Homo sapiens: one gene and its partners. The protein of the gene in region 3 purifies or fractionates together with the protein of the main gene of each other region. This does not show direct contact. Each region holds a gene or a part of one and is shown on either strand. Other genes may lie near its edges. The genes, in order: DBF4B, SULT1C2, SPDL1, SPTBN1, U2SURP, ATXN2L and KCNAB3.

Region 1 (3,050 bases), on a different chromosome or scaffold from region 3:
TCCTAGCGAGGTAGCAACTATGATTATCTCCATTTTTCGTATTTATTTATTTATTTATTTATTTTCGAGACAGTCTCGCCCTGTTGCCCAGGCTGGAGTGCAGTGGCACAATCTCGGCTCACTGCAACCTCTGCCTCCCAGGTTCAAGTGATTCTCCTGCCTCAGCCTCCCGAGTAGCTGGGATTACAGGCATGCCAGCATGCCCGGCTAACTTTTGTATTTTTAGTAGAGATGGGGTTTCACTATGTTGGCCAGGCTGGTCTCGAACTCCTGACCTCAAATGATCCGCCCGCCTCAGCCTCCCAAAGTGCAGGGATTACAGGCGTGAGCCACCGTGCCCAGCCTAGATTACCTCCATTTTTTAGATCAAGAAAACAGTTTGAGCTGGGCACAGCTGAAACTCCCCTGGGAAGGGGAGCCAAGATCCAGGATGAGAAGGAGTGCTCGGGTATACAGCACTCCTGCTGGTGGCAGGATAGGGAAAGACATAAAAGATTTGCTGGCAGTCACAGTATTTTATTATTGGAAAGGGTCCTGAAATCATCTCATCCAAGCCCCTTACTTAAAGACGAGGAAACTGAGGCCCGAGTAATAAAGGCATTTTTCTGAGGTCACAGTGAGTTGGAGGCAGCTAGCTCCTGCATTCCACCCAGCAGAAGGGAGTTGGGGTGGAGCTACCAATCGGTCACATCTGCCGAGAAGTGAAAGGCTCAGCGAGAAGAGGCAAGAACAAAGGCCTGGGGACCTAGTCTGAGTAAAGTAGTTAGGGCTGGAGGGCTCTTCAGGTGTCTCGGAGCTGACTCAGGGCAGACGGCAAGGCCTGTGCTGAATGAACGAACGAGGGAATGGGCAATGGTGAGGAAGGGCAGGGGGACAGGAGAACCAGGCCACTGAGGGGCTGCTGCGACCAAGGGAGCCAGGCTTCAAGGAGGAAAGAAAGGAGAAAAGGAACCAACTTTGGTCACCAGTAGCCTGTCCATGACCTTGGAATAGATGATCTTAGTGGAATGCTTCAGGCAGAGCTACCCAGGAAGGAAGTGTGGAAGGGAAGGAGGTGAAGAGGAGGCGGTAGGTATAGACCGCAGGAAGGAGCCAGAGAACAGAAGGTGGGAGCCTTCAAGTATTTGAAGTCGATTTACTGAATCAACTCAAGTGTTTTCCAGGAGAGGAGCATGGCATTTTGGGGCAGAGGGGAAAGGTGGCAAGTCTGAGAAGGAAACCAACAAGAGTGGTTGGCGAGGTGGGCTGGAGGGCCAGGGACAGACAGTGTGACTTGTGGAGGGAGGACACCTCTTCAGAAAGAAACGGCAACATGTTGAAAAGGGACTGACTGCAAGATAAGGCAATGCCCACTGGGTCTGGGTAAAAGTCATCTGGTGCGATGTGGAAAGGGGGCTGGAGTGGAAAGGAGTCTGAGCAGTGCTCACGCCAAGGAGCCACTGCGGGACCTCATTCACATCAAGCAGCACCCATCCATCCTGGGTCAAGTCTCAGGTGTTCTGGGTTCACCTCTAACCTGAGTCTACAGCCAGGAAGCCGCAATGGAGAAATGGCTGAGGAGTGTTCCAGCCTTGGGGTTTGGCCTGGCAGAGATGTCCAAGGTCATGATCATTGAGATAGGAGGGGAAGGCAAGGGTACACGGATGTGAGGTTCGGGGAATGGGTCCTGCAGTTGACAATGAGGGCACCCGAACCCGGCACCACAGGCTTTGTGTGAGCAGCAGGTAAAGGTATCCAAGTCTGAGACAGGGGCAAGGGGAAACTTCCTCATGCAGAGGGGTGGTGTCATGGGGAATGAGGCAACCCCATGTCACAAAAGGAAAGGGACGAACCCAGCAGCGTGCAGACATAAGCCACGGTCTGGCTTCAGGGAAGAGGAGTGGGCCCTTAACAGGAATGTCCGCCGGGGCAAAGGAGTTTTCTTGGGAGGGATGGAGGGGCATGTCCTCTGCAGGCGACCACTCCCCAGGCAGCAGAGCCAAGGAAGTGACCAGATGAGACTGGGTAAAGGAGGCTGGGCAGGGACAGAGGCAGCCCTGCTCCCTGGAGCCCTTGGGCAAGGCCGGCAGGAGGGTTGTGGCACTCACACATGTGTGACTTGCAGGAGGTCCCATCACACCATCTAGTGATTCTGTCCATCGCTGCTGGCCCGCAGCCCTGCCTTGGGTCACTGGAGGGCAGATCAAGGACCGACATATGGCATTCCAGCCCCATCTCTTTGCTATTTGTAATTAACAAATTTATTTACATTTCCTGAACCAAAATTAATTGTAAAATTTAACAGGAAGGGGGTAACATGACCTCTAAGGTGGGCTGTACACATAGTTGCTCTATTTCCAAACTAATAACTTGAGTCCTCACCCATAGCTGGGCCCCCCCTTCTTCCTTTGAAAGGAGACACAGAATAGCATCAGGCTTCCGGAAGCTTCAACATTTAAAGAGACAACTCTTTAAATGCACGGACGCAGAGAAGGGTGAGAAGAATCACGGTACAAATTGTAATGAAAGAAAAAGTGGCCAGAGAATCGATAGCAAACCCATTTCTGTCTCCAGATTAATGGCTTGGCTGCCAGAAATGGGGGGAGGTCCTTGGGGAAGGAGAGGAGGGAGCGAGGGAGGAGGGTGATGTGGAAGTTGGCAGGTGACACACTGGCCCCGGAACAGCCGAACTTCGGGCAGGCAGCTCAAGCTGAGGAGGCAGAGAAGGGGCGAGAGGGGTCCCAGAGGGGGCTCTGGCCACATCCTGGGCTCAGGGGAAAGGTCAGTGCTGGGCCCCAACTAAGTGCCTGGGGGAGGGAGCTCTGTGAGTGGTGCAGCCCAAGCCCCTCCTCTGCTTCATATGTTCCTGAGGATCTGTGTGCGGGAGCGTGGGGGGCTGGGGGAGGGGACAAACACAGTCATTTTGGAAAGCAGGAGCGGCCACATGCTCGTGAGAAAGGAGGCCGGGGTTGGGGGTGGAGCACACCAACAGCTAACCCGCGGCTCTGCAGAGAGGCAAGGGCCTGTGGAGGGCCAGGAAGCCGGGCCAGGACTCCTGCTGCCCCAGCTCC
Region 2 (2,261 bases), on a different chromosome or scaffold from region 3:
TCCATCCCCCTGCACAGAGTCCCCTAGGCCTGCTTCTTATAGGAGAGCTGCTCATGGACAGGTGTCCACTGAAGGGGGAGTTGGGTGAGTCAGGTATGTGGACAGGCCAGATTCAGTATGGGCACTACACCACTTTACTCAGGGACACCACATCTTTCAATCAGAGTGACACTCCTGTCTGGCCTTCCTTTTTCTAGGAACTGTGGGGGATTGGAAAAACCACTTCACTGTTGCCCAGAATGAGAGGTTTGATGAAATCTATAGAAGAAAGATGGAAGGAACCTCCATAAACTTCTGCATGGAACTCTGAGCAAGATGTAAATAAAATTAAAAGGTGGATGGCAAGAGTGCAAATACTATCTTCAATCCTTCAGTCCCAGCCAGAAGAATCTCTGAAAGCATATTGTGAATGTATACAATGTAGTACAAACAATCTCTGTGATGATTAACAGTATGTCACCACTTCATTTTTTAAAAAGGATCACGTCTAATGCCCATTTTCCCAACTATTCTTTCCAAAGTAAGATATAAGGTAGCTTAATAAACTAAGTAAAACGTATGACTTGAGTACAAAAGGATTGTTTTAATCCCCATTATTCTGGAAAGTGCATCCTAGTCTCCCAGTCTATAACATCATAATACCTTGAGTATAAGTCCAAATATTAGGTTATATCTATATTAAAAACAAAATTTCTGTCATCTGTCCTGGCCATTCAGGCAACTCCAGCCTGGGCTCAATCCTGGAGTTCTGTCTGGTCACTATCAGAAGGAACACTTTGAGGGAAACCCTGGTGCAGCCAGCCCTGAGGAAACATGGCCTGAGTGCCCTCACTGGTGGGTGGGAATAAAATGGAAGTGCACAGAGGAGATGTCAGAAGACCAAAACTTGGTGAATAGTCCCAGTGCTAGGTCATATAGGAAACAGAAAGCATGACAGTGGCCTTTTGGGAACCCAAGTTACGTCCTGGTGAAAGCAGAAAGGAGGAGACAGGATGGCTGTCAACAACGTCAGCATGGGCATGGCTCCCAGGCATGGAGGTAATTGGGTCTTGGCTTCAATGCCACCCTTTTGGGAAGCCCTAAACCAAGTGAGGTGTTCTTTTCCCTTGCTTCCCATATTTGTCCCAGTTGCAGCCCTGTTGTTATGTATTTACTCTTCAATTTCTTATTTATACCTCTCACTCAATTGTTAATTCTTTGGGTTCAGTCTCATGCCATATTTACTCCTAGTACCTAATGCAGTGCCTGGCACACAGCAAGTGCCCTTGAGAACTTGTAGAGGGAGTAAAAAAGTGCATGGATAAATGACTGCAGCAAATCACAAATTTTGAACTTTGACCCTTTTCTTTTAGTCCCAAATAGTGGCATTCCATAGCTGAGGGTAGTAGGAGCAGTTCACCCTGGGAGCAGACAATAAGAGGAAGAATGAAGCCAACTAAAATTCTGAATGCTTTTTGTTGGATTTCGTAGGGTATTTTTTTTAAAATAGGGTCTTGCTATGTTGCCCAGGCTGGTCTTAACTGACTGCTTTTTATTATTACCATGCACTGGCAATTCCAAACAATGTCAGTGTTAAAATGCTTCTCCCTGAAAAAGAGAAAAAAAAAAGGAAAAAAAGAAAAGAAAAGTGAAAAGAAAAACTCTTATTGGCCTAAGTTCTAAATAATAGCTAGGTTACCACTGAGTTTTAACTATATGTATATGAGCTTCAAATAAGCACCTTTTTATTATGTAAATAAATAAAAGTTATCTGTATCCCCACTGCATTGTAAAATTTTTGTTGTTTTGTTTCATGTCTTATTCACCTTTGTATGGAAATTAATTCAGAAACCCCAAGCATAGAGTCTACCTCTTTAATTCCAGCAGGCAGATGTAGTTCTGCCTGCTTCCTTCCAAGGTTAAGTTCATAACAGTTCAGAATCTTGCAAGCTCACTTCAGGTATAACCTGTGTCTCCAACCCTGCAGTATTTGGATATTGCTGTTTAAACAGTAGATTTGGCATAGATGATGGTGGCACAATGGTTGTAAAGGAAAAGAAGCAGAACACCTCAGTTTGTTCAATTCTCTCATTGGGGTTTTCAGTTGTATCCAGAATTTAAAACAGTAAAATTTAAGAGTGTGAACAGCAACATTCACACTTTGTTTAGTAAGTACAAAGTTGTGCTCATACAGGAAGTTTACTGACTTTGAATAATAACTTTAAAAACAAAATTTACTCTTTTCTAAGTGTTAATTATTTGTTTTAAAATTTAAGAATGAA
Region 3 (2,253 bases):
TACATTTGCTTAAGTGATTTTTTATCAAGCAAAAAAAGGCAGAAAAAGGAATGAAGACAATACAGATAGCAAGGCTGGCACTTATCAATTCTGGAAATCCACCTCCAGAAATATACACTGGTCAAGGATGTTTATACAATGCATCACATATAAACAGGCATAATCTGCTGGATTCATTTCAGAACTCTTTGAAACCATGGGTATGTGGCAGATACTCATTTGAAGTTACTTTTTCCTTAAGAATGGTAAGCTTTTATTTTATGTGACTCAGAGGTTATAACATTCTATAAAAATCCAAGGAGGGAGTAATAAAATTACTATGCCTTATAATAATAGCAGCTAACATTGTTAAAGTGCTTTTACTGTTGAATATTACATTTAGTAGCACTGAAGACTTGGAGAGAAATCAGATAAAACATATAAGCCCTTTTAAACAGGGCTGTCTTACTCTCTCTACTCAAATGCACATTAGTAAAATGTCTTATTAATCTGTCTCCACTCTCTAAGACTAAGGTAGCCCTAGTAGCACCTTCAACATCTCATTTCATAGGAGATAATCTAGGCTAGTTATTGGCACATCTTTTTGAATGTCTAGATATTTGTTTTAAATGCCTCTAACAATCCCATTGCATGCAGACATCCTTCATCTTTCTTTTACTTTCTTCAATTTCCTCATTCACTTCTCCTGCTGCGCACATCCAGAACTCGAGCCTCAGCCACTGCTACTTACCTTTCCCTTCCATTCACTTTCTCTTACCTTCTGACCTCAATTATTTTTATTAAGACAAAGCCCTTGGGACATTAATTCCTTCAGACACACATATCTGACGCTATTTCTTTTAGTCACAAACTCAATTATGCAGAAACTAGAGGCTTTCAAGTTTTGGAAACAATGAAAATGAGTTAGCTTTGATATGTAAAAATGTCAAAATAAGTATTGAAGCCCATTTTTGAATGCCTAGGATAAGCAATTCAAAAGACATAAAAAATTCACCTAAGTTTCCTAGAAGGCTGAAATTTCTTAGACTACTGGAAAGCCCTTTGAGAAAGTAAGTTAATTTTTCTTTCATGGCCATGCTTGAACCAGGAGAAAAATAACAGTACATGTATTCAAACTGATAAAACATTCAGAGATGTGTTAAACTGTGATATTCCCTTTCATGAAACAGAAACGTGTAACTTTTTAATGTGATTGCCTTATTCAAGAGTCCTTTCCCTTTGCAATCAGTTTAGTCTTTCTTAAAGTTCTGGAAAAGTTGAAGGTAGGTAGATGAAACTGAGGAATTATACTGCATGCAATTGTAAGAAAGTAGATAAAGAAACAGACAGCACAGTTCATGCAGCGAGAGAGGAGAGATGGAGAGGTCTGCTGGCTGCCTGGAGGAAAAGAGGACACTGACCTGGGAGAGTTAGGGGTGTTTCCACTTCTTTCACTTAAGGCCTCAGCGTCAGCGGGAACTCCTATGAGTTTCACACATTTCTTTTCCTTCTTCAGCTGCATATCCACGGGCAGATTTTTGTGAGGAGAGAGACTGACTACTGGTGTGTATATAGAAACTGATTTTTCTAATTGCAAGTTGTTATCTTCTAAACTGTTAGGGCAGGACTGTGTCTCCTCTTTCTGAGGCGGTAATCGATAAACTTCTCCCCCGAGAGCACTGTTGTTGACACATGCATCTTTAGCGGTGGTTATATCCACAGGGAGCACCTCACGCCTCTTTTTCAGTACAGGCACTTCAACTGTCTCTGAGAATAAAAACGAGTGGGGAAAAGAAAAAATCTAAGAAAACAAAGACACAATCAACACAAGAAGCCAGAACTAGTTATATGTATACCTTTTTCCATTCTTTTAAAATGCAACCATCTCCTCACTGAAATGCATCCTTTGTTTCTACCTTTTATTCTTTATCATGGAATCTATATAAACTATATATTTTAAAGTTTATTTGGCTATATATTTTTCCTTGGGAATTCAATATTTTGACTTTAGGCATGAATGCTTCACTGTTCTCTCTTGGTGTTTTGAAAAAGGTGGTTCATAAGATCTCAGTGTGGAGATGAAGAGACAGCGGCAGAGTCCAGGTTCGAATCCTAATCCTCGTATGTGACAGCCATGTCTTTGGGGAATTATTTAACCTCTCTGAGCTTCATTTTATCTGTAAAATGGGGATTAAAAGCACCCACTTCACTTGGTATTGTGTATTAGAAGGATTAAATGACAAGAATAGGCCAAACTTTCTGAATATTGGTAAT
Region 4 (3,500 bases), on a different chromosome or scaffold from region 3:
CAATCCCATACACAGACAGCCAACACCCAATACTCCTAATACTGTGTCTTTCTAGTTTGGACAAGTGTCTTTCTATTCTGGAAATGTTCTACGATGCTGTTAGAGCAAGTAATATTTTGGGTTAAAAATGCCTTCCCATGGAAGGTGGACTCCTGATAATGCAGTGGGTGAGAAAAGACTCTAAGGACTATGGCTGTAAAACAGAAATACACCCAAGTCCATGATGGCTTGTCCACTTGCCTGTTGCTTTTTCAGCAGGATATTGACACTGGTCAGGTCTTTGCCATAGTCATCAGACTGAATCTGACTCTCCAGGCCGTGCAGCCATTTGTCTAGATCTGCACAGCTCTGGGTGAAAAGTTCGGCCTTGTTTGCATCAAAGAGCCGCTGGGCCTTTGTCTGGGTAGTGGATTCAAGGACTTCCCACATTTTATGTAAACCAGTGAGTTTCTCCTTCACCACAGCTTCCGTCTCAGGCTTTTCTGAAATGAGCTGCATTCCTTCCTGGAAAACAAAACCAACATGGTTGTAAATAAACAAGTTTGCTACAGAAAAAATGTCACTGTGAAAAACAAACCTAGGACATTTGATCTGTGATTTAACCATTCACTCAATACACACAGTCTTTCCACATGAAGTTACTGCTCAATAAAATCAACAACGACCCCTAGGTTGTGTACATTACAAGGGTTTCATGGGAATTAAGCAATAAATGTTACATGCTGAAATAGTCTCAACTGGGGCAACGGAATACTGAATGCTAATAACGTGACTTTATCTCCTCCATTCCATGACCAAAGATGATATACAACACATTATTATTATTATTATTATTATTATTATTGTTATTATATTGAGACAGAGTCTCGTTCTATCACCCAGGCTGAAGTACAGTGGCGTGATCTCAGCTCACTGCAACCTCTGCCTCCTGGGCTCGTGCCTCAGCCTCCCCAATAGCTGCGATTACAGGCACATACCACCAGGCCTGGCTATTTTTGTATGCTTCATAGAGATGGGGTTTCACCATGTTGGCCAAGCTGGTCTGAAACTCCTGGCCTCCAGTGATCCATCTGCCTTGGCCTCCCAAAGTGCTGGGATTACAGGCATGAGCCACCGTGCCCTGCCAACACATTATTTTAACCGTGAAGAATCTGAAACACTATAAAAAGTCTAAAAGGAGAGAAGTCGGGGGGAAGGGGGGGACTCCATATTCATCTTCAGTTATGCTGCCCAGAATCTCTCTGTGCAAGAATAACACATCATAGTAATTATTATAGCGCCTGGTATACAGTAGTCTCATAGGAAAAAGCAATTTTAAAAAATATGTATATATTTAAAATTATGTGCAATCTGTCACAGTACAACACAAATAATATGATCAAGACAGTGGAATCCCTGCATGAGAGCTCACAGTCCATCAGCAACAGCAGATGAGAGGCACAACAGAAACTAAATGCCTAGTATTCGTTCTACGATAAATCAAGCATTTTCTACTAACTGGTTGGGTTTCTGCTTTTTTCCCTTTTGATGGGTTGAAGTCAGGAACCCGTACGTGCAAAGGGAGCTATTACTGGCTGTGTAACTTACGTAAATGTACAGATAAGATCAGATATGCTGGAAAATGTGCTAAATAAAAAGGAGTTTATTACTACCCTGTTTGTTTTCTCACCATGGCCACATCAAATGTTTTAACTCACCTTCTCGATTTTGTCAAGCCATTCTTTGTTGGATGCAAGTTCTGCCATAAATGCTTGATGCTTCAACCATTTACTGTGCAGATTTCTGGCTTCATCGTAAGACATGTCCTGGGCTGTGAGCATCTTCTCATTGATCCAGAGAGACAGCTACAGAAAGATCAGAAGGATTCAGAGATTGTGATCCTAGACATCAGCCTTTTTTCCGCCTGGAAAGGGTTGTGTTTATGTCATATTATGCATACTACACACGTTTCCATGGTGACAGACAACCAAATATTTAACTTCACAACTCTGACCCGTCATGACAGGTGTCCATTAGATGGAGCTTGTACCTGAGCTCTGCTCCAAACTATATCTAACATTCATTCCAGAAGTACAAAAGCTCTATAAGCCAGTTTTCAAACTGTTTGGCACTCATAACTGGCTTTCCCCACAAAAGGCCCGTGTTTAAAATTCTACCCTAACCACTCCAAGACATGACTCTTTTTCTCTTCCAAATACCTGTGTCAGCTATACCATGTTAATCATGATTGACTTTTACTCCATTTGGCAATCCTTCTTACTCTCTTAGTTCTTTTTATTAAAAAAAAAAAAAAAAAACTACTTATTTATTACCTCCCCCTTTTTGTGGGTGCATCGAAGGGAATGCAAAAAGGCATAAATAACTTGCTCACTGTAGGGCTAAGGCAACAATCATGCCCTTTCAATGTTTCCTTCAAGTTTGAGTCACCTTCACCTCTTTTTCTATAGCCTCTAGTTCTCTAAAGAACCTTTCATTCACACCAAGAACACTTCACAGGACTTGATTTTGAGACCCAACATGTCTGCTTGGATCTGAACTCTAGAGAGCCGCACAAAGGCTGCTGGCCGCTGACAGACCTGAGAAAGGAGCTCTCTTACCGGGGTCAGCCAAACGCCAGGCCCAGACCCACTTTTGCTGGCTTCCATCCCGAATCGGCCCTGGCTCATTACTGCCTGCCTGTAAGGGCCATGCCAGAGTCCTGATTCCCGCCCCATTTGCTTTGCTAACCTAGGAAGAGCTTTTTGTTTGCCCAGGCTGAAGATACACAAAAGAATGCAGAGCCAGCCTGGAATCAGAAGTAACCAACTGAAGGGACCATGTCCCTTCTCCTGAGTGACCGTGAGAAGCCCACTTTTACACCAGTTATTGTCACAACAAATTGGCACCTTAAATCCTTCATGGTTCTACCAACAAAGATCTAGAAGTGACACATAAAACCAGTAGAAGTACTTACAGAATTAACACTTCCAAGGCCCTTCCACTCCCACTGTGGGCTGCTGCCAGGAAAGGCTCCCCGAGATTTGTTTTTTGGAAATGATGTCAAGGAGAGCGACGTGGGTCACAGGAGCCCTCTGGCTCTGAAAGTGGGTGAACTCTTGGGCACTGTCCCTATTCTCAGGCTATTCACCACACAGGGAATGGGGCAGGGGGCGGGGGTGGGAGGGGGTTAAAAGCAAAAGGTAGTGAGATTTTTGATTTCACTCTTTGTTGAGGGAAAAACTAGCAAATCTCATAAAGTCCTTTGTCATCAAAGACCATGGATCTATTAGACAATAAAGGCACGCACTTCCTACTTGGAAAAAATTATCTATGTTCCAGTTATCTGGGCAGCTAAAATCTGAAAGACTATGGCTATTCAATCTTAGGGGAAAAGAAGTTAAAGTAAAACTTAATGACAAAATTTTTCCCAGTATTCTGTACATACACACAAAACAGAAGGCATTTATTGATTCAAAGTGCCAAGGACATTCACATATTTTCGCTATTCATAACCACTTACC
Region 5 (3,500 bases), on a different chromosome or scaffold from region 3:
GTAATTTAAAAAATTATTTCCTGTAAGAGAAGATATTGTTCTATAAATGAGATTAACCCACATTGATATTTTTAAACAACTTAATATTTTCTATAAAAAATAACAGGAGAAAGAGAAAGAGTTAGAAAGAGAACGAGAAAGAGACAAGAAAGATAAAGAAAAATTGGAATCTCGCTCCAAAGACAAGAAGGAAAAAGATGAGTGTACTCCGACAAGGAAGGAAAGGTATAACATTTCTCATATTTAATTGCATATACTGGTTTCAAGATTTGCAGTGGTGTTTTATAATACTTTCATCATTGATGCCCGCAAACTGGAAGTGTTTGTTCATGATAAACTTGTTTGGGTCCTGCTTGCAGAAGGCAGAAATAGCGGAGAAATGGGGCATTTAGTTGGCACTTGACTTAGTTAACCAGGGCATCATCCCTTCACATGGTTTATATGGTATCCTTAGCCTTAGTTCAGTGCAAGGATTCAATTACAGTATTAGATATCAAACCTGAGGTTTAAGTAACAAAACAACTTGCTAGATTTTCCTTGTTGCATCCAATTTAAGCATATTTTCCAGTATCTGTGCTGAGGCTGCTACTTGTAAACTTGAGTCTTAGTCTTATCTTGAAAGGAGGTTGTATACATAGGCCAAAGCTCACCTTAAGTCTTCATTCTAATCAAAAGCATTTCTCTTTCAGTTTTTATGTCTTACTCTCACGGTTCCTAAATCTCTGATTGAGTAAAGAAAATTGTTTCCCTTAACTGAACTGAGGTTTTCCTAATAAAAAGACCAAGCCATTGCAAATAAAAGTCTAGCTTAGTCACGCTACAGATAGTTACAAATAACAAGTTATGCCAATTGGTTAAAAGTCTGTCACTTTTTTGACTTTTATTACTATTTTGACATAGTTTTAGATTTATAGGAAAGTTGCAAGAATAGTATAATTGATAGTTACCCTTCACCCACATTACCCAAATGTTAAAGTATTTCTACTTTTGCTTTATTCTTCCTCTTCTGTCCCACCTCCAACCATTTAAGAATAATTTGCCAACATGATGCCCCATTCTCTTAACCACATTCAACATTTTAAAAAACTGATATTTAATCCAGAGACCTTAATTAGATTTTGCCAGTTGTTTCAATAACCTCTTATTGCAAAGAGAAAATCCAATTTAGTTGAATTCAGTTGTTGTCTCTTGACAACCTATCTTTAACACTTATTTGTTCTTGTTACAAAGGACTTTGAGTATTGTTAAAAGTAACATTACATGGTTAGAATAAAAGAGTAAGCTGGTAGCAATTAATAGCTAATTTAGTAAAGGAAAATGAATACCCGATCCTTTGCTCATTTATGGAATGTTTTGGGGGCTTTGTTCCATAGGAAGAGGCGACACAGTACATCCCCCAGCCCATCTCGCAGTAGCAGTGGTAGACGAGTGAAATCCCCATCACCAAAATCGGAGCGATCAGAGCGTTCAGAAAGATCTCATAAAGAGAGCTCACGGTCCAGGTCATCTCACAAAGATTCTCCTAGAGATGTTAGCAAAAAAGCCAAAAGGTAAATGCAAGTCATTTTTGCTAATATTTCAGATACCAGTTTCCTTGTCATTTCATCAGCTTTTGAAAATAATTTGGTTGGCATACATTTTTTTTTTTTTTTAAGGATTTTAGAAAACCAAAGAGATACACTTTCATTTTTGGTTATTCCTCCCCACCTCCTCATCCCAATCTCTTTCATGACTGAAGTGAAGGCTTCCAACAAGTGAGGACCAGCCAAGAATTTTAAACATCATATCCAATGTTTTCTGTGGAATAGGGTTAGCTGCTTTACTTTTCGTTCTGTTCTTTAGTTTCTATAGAATATTATTTGATTTTTGTCAAAGCTGAAAGAAACACACATTTTTCCCCCATAGCAATATTATTAGCAAGTTCTTGGGTAGATATTTTTGGAAATACATATCATGAATACCATTTTTTCAGTATGTATTTTAGTATTTTGTATACTTTTTTTTCCTTTAGTTCCAGAAAAATGGTTCAGAAATGTTTTATTTATCTGGTGATACATAGAGGAATTTTCCTGAGAGCTAAAACTGCTTTGTATGCTAATACTTTATTATTGTAACTATTTTTAGTAAAATCTTTACAGAATAGATACCTTTCTCCTTTTCTAAATGGCACCTGTATATATATGTATGTATGTGTTATATATGTATGTATATGTACATGTATCTTTATTGGTTTAAGTAATCCTTCATGAACAGCACTTACAAAATTATGTCTTAAATGATGCCCTTGAATGATACTGCAGTAGTTGTTTGCTTCAGGATGATAAACTTCAAAGCTGCTGTGTTTTTTAAATTTTGTGCATGATCTTAGGTGCAACTTTGAACTTTATCTTGTAGATTAAAGGTTCAAATTTGGGGGTTATCAGTCACTTATGGAGCTTGTTAAAAATGCAAATTCTTAGTTCCATCCTCCAGAGATTTTGATTCAGTAGAGCAGTGATAAGGCACAGAAATCTGTCTTTATAAACAAGCGCTCTACTGATGATCATTGATGCAGTGCATAGTAAGTACAAAATAATCTGTGTGTGTGTGTGTACAATAGAGTTTAAATTTTAGAAGTTCATAGTCTTATTGCAGTGATTTTTCACTGTGCCCTGTTAAAGATCATTTTCGATCGTTTAAGGATAAACAGTTTTGATCACATGAGTACTTTATCAATTGGGATTTTTTTGTTTGTTTCCTTAGATCACCATCTGGTTCAAGGACACCTAAAAGGTCTAGGCGATCACGGTCTAGATCTCCTAAAAAATCAGGAAAGAAGTCCAGATCCCAGTCCAGATCTCCACACAGGTCTCATAAAAAGTCAAAGAAAAACAAACACTGACGTAAATTTTTAAGATGCTGTCACTTATTGGAAATGCGATTTGTTTTGTGCCTGAACGGTCTGTTTTTTAAAAAAACAAAAAATCAAATGAAAGAGCATTCCTGGGGTTTTTTGTTTGTTTGTGTATGCATGTGTAAACTCATGAGCAACTGCATCTGTAGATCTGTCATTGTTTTATATTGTGTAAATTACTTTCATTGTGGCTATTTCTCAAGATGAAATTTTTATTGTTCTAATGGATTTCATCAGAAATGTGTATAATGGATCTGCTGACAGTAGTAGTATTTTGTTTTAGGATGTTGTGACTTAGCAAAAATAATACAGATGTCTTCCCCCCTTTTGTAGCTTTGACAATTTGAATTAGATTTCAAATAAAATCTGAACAGAAAACTATAATGTTGTTTTTTTGCCCCACCGGTGATATTAAGTCCCTTAAAGTCCTACTGAGTTTCACACTACTGTTGTGCTTCTTATACCTGATGCACTTTATAAGCCCCAGTGTTCAAGTAGCTTAAGTTTTATATTTACTAAGATGACTATCCAAATTAAGGGACCTGAGACTCCTATTTGGTGGTTTGCTAACCATTTGCTTTTGATAAGTTTCTCTTGGGTAATACTA
Region 6 (2,367 bases), on a different chromosome or scaffold from region 3:
GGCTGGCTTCCAGTAGGCGTGGTAGCCGGCTGCGGCTGGTGGGCATGGAGCTGTGTGGCATGGTGTGGGTAGGACTGGTGAACAGTGGCTGCAGCAGGAAAGAGGGAGAACCAGTGCTGAGCACACCAGAGGGGGCTGGCACACAGCCCAGAGCAGAGGGACCAGGCGCAGGACTCACCATAAAGGGCTTGGGGGGTAGGCTGCTCTGCAGAAGGGTACTGAGGGGTAGAGGATGACACGATGGCCTGGGGATGGCTGCCCGACGTCAGCATGCGTGGGTTGCTCTGAAGCATGGGGGCAAACACCGGCTGGCGGGACAGAGAGAGGAGTGGTTGGCACAGCCGCCAGCTGGGAAGGTGTCCTCCTGCCAGTCACTGCGTGCACAGCACCGCTTGGGCCTCCTCACAATCACCCTATTGATTCAACATTCATAACGATCCCACCCAGCAGACACTATTTTCTCTACACTTCAGAGATACAGATGTCCAATGCCTTGTTACAGGTACCACCAGAGCCAGGGCTCAAGCCCAAGTCTGACACCGCCAATACCACAGAGGGCCGATCCCACCTACAACACTGCCTGCCACCCCTAGCCAGCTCCCAAGTCTCTGGAGAAGATGGGATCCCTAGCAGGGGCCCTGGATCCTCACTGCCCTCCTGGGCCGCAGTCACCTGTGAGGGGTAGTGGGCCATGGGCTGCATCATGGCTGGCTGGCCTGGGAACTGCTGAGGGTTGTAGGGGATGTAGGAAGAATAGGGCGTGGCAGCCACCAGAGGCGGGCCAGCAGCCGCGGCGGCCTGCATCATCGGCGGGGCTGAGGCTGGCTGGTGTTGGTCCGAGCGCTGCGGAGGAAGGGAGCCTGGAAGAGGAGGAGGAGAGGAGAGCTCAAGCTCCACCTGCCAGTAGGCCCTTGGCAGCCTCGCCGCCTGCCCCTCCCAGCCCTGCTCACCTTTTGCTCCCCGGTACTTGCCCTGCTGCCCAGGCACTGAATTGGATACAGGATATGGATACATCTGAGGTGCCTGGGGATGAGGACACAGATGAGGCTGAATGACTCGCTCACGAATGCCCAGACAGGCCTGACCTGGTCCCTCAACCAGCGCAACCAAATCCCACCCCGCTAACCCTGGGCCCGGCCAGTCTCTCTGCATACCTGCACAGCTGGTCCCATGTGGATCTGAGGTATGTAGGAGATGTACTGGGGGCTGTATAGCCCACTCTGGCCTGCTGTCAGCACCGGGATGGAGGGAGTTGAATGAGTCCGGGGCCCCGGAGAAGTTGGGGTACTGGTGGATTTATTCTGCAAAAACAAGGGAGGACAATTTTATTTTGTATTTTCCCCTCTACTCCTGGCCATGCCTAGAGTGGTAATAATTAACATTCGTGAAATGCTGCATACCAAACATATTCTGCACTTATCTTGATAAAGCCTCACATTAAACCCTATGAGGAGATGAGTATTCTAAAGTTACAGGTGAGGCAGAGAATGTAAGTGACGTCCAAGATCACAAACCTTCCAAATACAGGGGCTCAAGCCAAGTCAGCTGGCCTCTGTTCATGACTACCCCACTCCAATACTCCCTCAGCCAAATGCCAAGAACCAAAGAAAAGCCTGTTAACCCCTCATCAGACTCACTGGGATCCCTGATCCCCTGATCACCCAAACCTAGAGACCTGAGTCCATTTTCCCCAAGCCAGCCCCAAAGGTGCCATCCTTACATTTTTATGACATCTCCTCACACTGCCTGCCAGGCAAGTGGTCCTGGAAGTGAAGTGTTCCTCCCCCTATTCATCTATAAGCACTGCCCAAGTCTCCCCACAGAAACCAAAGTCCACATTCTCCTGTCCCAGCTCACCACAGACAGCAGAGGCTTTGTAGGATTGAACTCCTTAGCATTAGGGTTCAACGTTGATTTCTTTACTTGTCTGTGAGAGAAAGTACAGTAAATCTTCACGGCTTGCTCTCATCCCTCCTGCCATCCTCCCAGAGCCCCACCCCGCTCCACTCACTCAGCAACAGGGCCCTCATCTTTGTCTTCTCCCTTGATGAGGCCCACCGGGGGGCTGCCAGTTTGGCTTGGACAAGGTGGTGGGGGCTGCTCTGGCCCCTCAGTGCCTCCTGATGGTGCCAGGGGTGGTTTGTCCTCCTTATCCGATACGGACTCTGTCTTGGAGGAGACGGGAGACCCCATGGGCTCTGAAGTCAACAGACCATCAACCTCTTTCTCCTTTCCTTTGGGCTCCTCCTTTAAGATCCGGGGAGGAAAAGGATCCAGGCTGTTCTCAGGGGAGCTACTGGGCTGAAGCTGGAAGAGAGAAACACACACAGTCCAGTCTGACCCAGACCCTAGTCCTGGCTTTCTTCT
Region 7 (2,749 bases), on a different chromosome or scaffold from region 3:
TGTTACAGAATAACTAATCATAGTTTAGTAATATATTTTACTTCTTTGTTTCCTCCACAGTCTTGCAAAATGAGTGGGAGATGATGGGGTGGATTTAAGTATTAATTAGTTGATGCAGTTGGCTGCTAATCCAGTAAATGGCATGCTGCTGACTTTTCTCTTTTGGAAATTGGTTTTACTTTGCTTGCCCAGCTTTTGGATCAAGGCGGGATGAGGACGGGTAGAAGGGAGATGGGCAGGTTGTATTTAAGGAAGGCAGAGCTCATCCTCCTCTACCTTGTGATCTTTAAGGTTGTAACTTTCCACCCAATTCTGTTCCAGTGAAATGATAACATCTTTCCTTCTCTCTGTATTCCCTCAACCTCAGACCATTCTTCACTTTACCTCTCCACCAAATCACAAAGCCTCAACCTCAGAACAGCATCTCCCCCTCAGCCACAGGTTCCTTGGCATATGTGTGGGTGTCCAGCGAGAGAGAAATGAGAAGTACAAGGAACAAGTATGGCTAATATTACTTTAAATACAAACAAATAAAGGCAGATAGCTAAGTCTTTCATAGAAAGAGGAGGAACAAAATTATGAAGCCAGATTTCTGGGTTCTAAGGAATGTGGTAGCTGAAGGAAGAAAACTGGGGCCTGGGGTATCTGGTGTCTTGGTCCTTGATGAGAACAGTGACTAGGAGCCCGATGCCTGGGTCACCAAGGTGAATGAGCAATGGAGAGAAAGCTAATGCTAGCAGATTTCTAATGTTAGGGGGCGAGAGGGCCAGACAAGTGAGACTGTGACCCTAACCTCCCAAGCCCCTGCAACTTTAGACACTGTGAGGATCAAGCTGAGGTTTATTTACAGTTACCTGGGAAGTCTTACAGAGAAGGGGCCATCATTATTGCTTTAGGTTTATTGCCAGGAGGAAGACTGCAGTTCCCCACTGCCAGGTAGGAGGCCCTGCTCAAGGCTCAAAAGTCTATACCCAGACGTTTTATTTATTTATTTTTTTTAAATCAAGGCGTCCCTGCCCGTGACGGAAAGGCTGTCACTAATTCCTGCCAAGAACAGCCCAACTGTTTTCCAAGGACCACCCCGGCCACTTTCACCAGACTGCAGCGTAGATGTGCTATTACATTTCCCTCTACCTTTGTCAGTGCTGTGCCACTGTAGACCCCACCCTGACCGCCCTCCTCCACCTCTGGGCTGGGAGGCAGGGTCCTGGTTTCCCAAAGATTATCATTTACTTCCTGCCAGGACCAGCCTGGCTTCCTTCGTACCGAATACGCTAAGAGCCCCATTTCCTATGTTCCAGATGACATCACAACTCACTCACTAGGTTATTACCCTTTGATGACATTTCAAGGGCCCCTTTTGAGGTACACTGTATGTTTCTTGTATGTGCTGGGTTTTTGTTTTTGTTTTCTTTTCTGGGCCTCGGGAATAAGGGGAGGAGAGTAGGGAGCGAGACGAAGTGGCAGAGAGCCGACGGCGAGTAGCTCATGCCCGGGATTTGCAAGAAGGGCCTAGAAAGACGCAGCAGGGGGCGGGCGTGCTACTTTCTCTCTCGACCCCACTGCAAAAGGATATGGCTTTGTTCATGCGTATCACTACTCGAAGCCGGGACTCGTTGGTGGGCGGGGCTAGTCTGGCTCCGGCCGCTGCGTGGAGGGATCCGGAGCGGGAGAGGCGGCTGCGAGGAGCGGGGCTCGGGCGGGTGCAGCGACACCGGGTTGGGTCCCTGCGCCCGCGACAGACTACTTCTTGGAATGCGGCTTGTTTCCCAGGAGCCCGTCTATTTCCATCACTGTCTGCGGGGTCAGCTGGCTCAGCACCTGGAGGAGAGTGGGACGGTGGCGACGGCAGCCCATGCTGGGTCACTGAGAAAGGGCATGGGGTTCCAGTAGCCGGGGAAGCACCACAGTGGGGTCAAGTGGCAAGGCAAGAGCCGCAGCTGTGCCGGTGCCTCGCTTTCCGGCCCTGGGACCTCTCACCTGCAAAGTGAGGACTTTGTAGTGGGTGACCTGATAGAGCCATCCTGGGTTGGATAGCGTGGCTTTGACTCCTGGGGAGGGGGACAGATAGGCTCTGCCTCTGAGTCCCCGGCTCACCTGTAGCGCGCCCAGGTGTTCTATCAACTGCTCCGCACTCGACACCCCCAGCAAGACAGAGCTGACACCCTCACTGCGGAGACACCACGCTGGGGCCAGAGGAGGAAAAAAAGAGGACTGATGGGGAACAGTGACCACATAGATTTCAGAAGTGTCTCTGAAGACAAGCGTCCTCCCTAGGGACAAACCAGTTTTAGGATGGGCTTGGGAGCATGTCAGGAGGAGACAGGGCCCCTGCAGGGTGCAATGTCTCACCAATAGCAAGCTGGGCCACGGTGCAGCCCAGCTGGTGAGCGACAGGAAGAAGGTCCATGACTTTGGCTTGTTGCTTCTTGCCATCTTCACTCTGCACTTTGTCCTTGAGCCACTGGTAGCCCTGGAGGCCAAGAAGAATCAACAGAAGACCCCGCCATCACCACCACCACCACCACACTCACAAAGCAGCCCCCCGTAACTCCCCCCAAAGCAGCCCATATAGCCCAGTCCTGCCATCGAGAGCCCCCAGATCTCACCTTGATGGAGGCCCTGCAAGTATCTGGGACTCGCCCATCATACTTGCTAGTAATGAGACCACAGGCTAGAGGGTACCAAGTGACTGATCCAACTCCTAAGGGAAGAACACTGGGTGTCAGGAAAAGGACCTAGCCATGGA

What was found.
Region 1: the proteins of SPDL1 (region 3) and DBF4B purify together in Homo sapiens (affinity purification with mass spectrometry, with the first as the bait; one large-scale study listed by BioGRID). This does not show direct contact.
Region 2: the proteins of SPDL1 (region 3) and SULT1C2 purify together in Homo sapiens (affinity purification with mass spectrometry, with the first as the bait; one large-scale study listed by BioGRID). This does not show direct contact.
Region 4: the proteins of SPDL1 (region 3) and SPTBN1 purify together in Homo sapiens (affinity purification with mass spectrometry, with the first as the bait; one large-scale study listed by BioGRID). This does not show direct contact.
Region 5: the proteins of SPDL1 (region 3) and U2SURP purify together in Homo sapiens (affinity purification with mass spectrometry, with the first as the bait; one large-scale study listed by BioGRID). This does not show direct contact.
Region 6: the proteins of SPDL1 (region 3) and ATXN2L purify together in Homo sapiens (affinity purification with mass spectrometry, with the first as the bait; one large-scale study listed by BioGRID). This does not show direct contact.
Region 7: the proteins of SPDL1 (region 3) and KCNAB3 purify together in Homo sapiens (affinity purification with mass spectrometry, with the first as the bait; one large-scale study listed by BioGRID). This does not show direct contact.

What each region holds. Positions count from the first base shown.
Region 1 is NC_000017.11:44,749,715-44,752,764, reverse strand, and holds the end of DBF4B (protein DBF4 homolog B), read right to left. Parts: exon of another isoform or gene 2,218-3,050; intron 2,171-2,217; coding exon 1,512-2,170; 3' UTR 826-1,511; coding exon of another isoform or gene 802-825; 3' UTR 501-801; downstream 1-500. UniProt on the Homo sapiens protein: Regulatory subunit for CDC7 which activates its kinase activity thereby playing a central role in DNA replication and cell proliferation. Required for progression of S and M phases.
Region 2 is NC_000002.12:108,308,155-108,310,415, forward strand, and holds the end of SULT1C2 (sulfotransferase 1C2), read left to right. Parts: intron 1-197; coding exon 198-310; 3' UTR 311-1,761; downstream 1,762-2,261. UniProt on the Homo sapiens protein: Sulfotransferase that utilizes 3'-phospho-5'-adenylyl sulfate (PAPS) to catalyze the sulfate conjugation of phenolic compounds. Does not transfer sulfate to steroids, dopamine, acetaminophen, or alpha-naphthol.
Region 3 is NC_000005.10:169,600,773-169,603,025, reverse strand, and holds part of SPDL1 (protein Spindly), read right to left. Parts: intron 1,747-2,253; coding exon 1,401-1,746; coding exon of another isoform or gene 1,202-1,400; exon of another isoform or gene 1-1,201. UniProt on the Homo sapiens protein: Required for the localization of dynein and dynactin to the mitotic kintochore.
Region 4 is NC_000002.12:54,641,327-54,644,826, reverse strand, and holds part of SPTBN1 (spectrin beta chain, non-erythrocytic 1), read right to left. Parts: intron 1,845-3,500; coding exon 1,698-1,844; intron 505-1,697; coding exon 241-504; intron 1-240. UniProt on the Homo sapiens protein: Fodrin, which seems to be involved in secretion, interacts with calmodulin in a calcium-dependent manner and is thus candidate for the calcium-dependent movement of the cytoskeleton at the membrane.
Region 5 is NC_000003.12:143,053,570-143,057,069, forward strand, and holds part of U2SURP (U2 snRNP-associated SURP motif-containing protein), read left to right. Parts: intron 1-106; coding exon 107-225; intron 226-1,373; coding exon 1,374-1,550; intron 1,551-2,742; coding exon 2,743-2,881; 3' UTR 2,882-3,500.
Region 6 is NC_000016.10:28,832,999-28,835,365, reverse strand, and holds part of ATXN2L (ataxin-2-like protein), read right to left. Parts: intron 2,308-2,367; coding exon 2,012-2,307; intron 1,928-2,011; coding exon 1,858-1,927; intron 1,302-1,857; coding exon 1,155-1,301; intron 1,024-1,154; coding exon 951-1,023; intron 861-950; coding exon 673-860; intron 309-672; coding exon 179-308; intron 89-178; coding exon 1-88. UniProt on the Homo sapiens protein: Involved in the regulation of stress granule and P-body formation.
Region 7 is NC_000017.11:7,921,359-7,924,107, forward strand, and holds the end of KCNAB3 (voltage-gated potassium channel subunit beta-3), read right to left. Parts: intron 2,705-2,749; coding exon 2,610-2,704; intron 2,474-2,609; coding exon 2,353-2,473; intron 2,274-2,352; coding exon of another isoform or gene 2,187-2,273; coding exon 2,098-2,186; intron 1,822-2,097; coding exon 1,744-1,821; coding exon of another isoform or gene 1,487-1,743; 3' UTR 501-1,486; downstream 1-500. UniProt on the Homo sapiens protein: Regulatory subunit of the voltage-gated potassium (Kv) channels composed of pore-forming and potassium-conducting alpha subunits and of regulatory beta subunit. The beta-3/KCNAB3 subunit may mediate closure of potassium channels.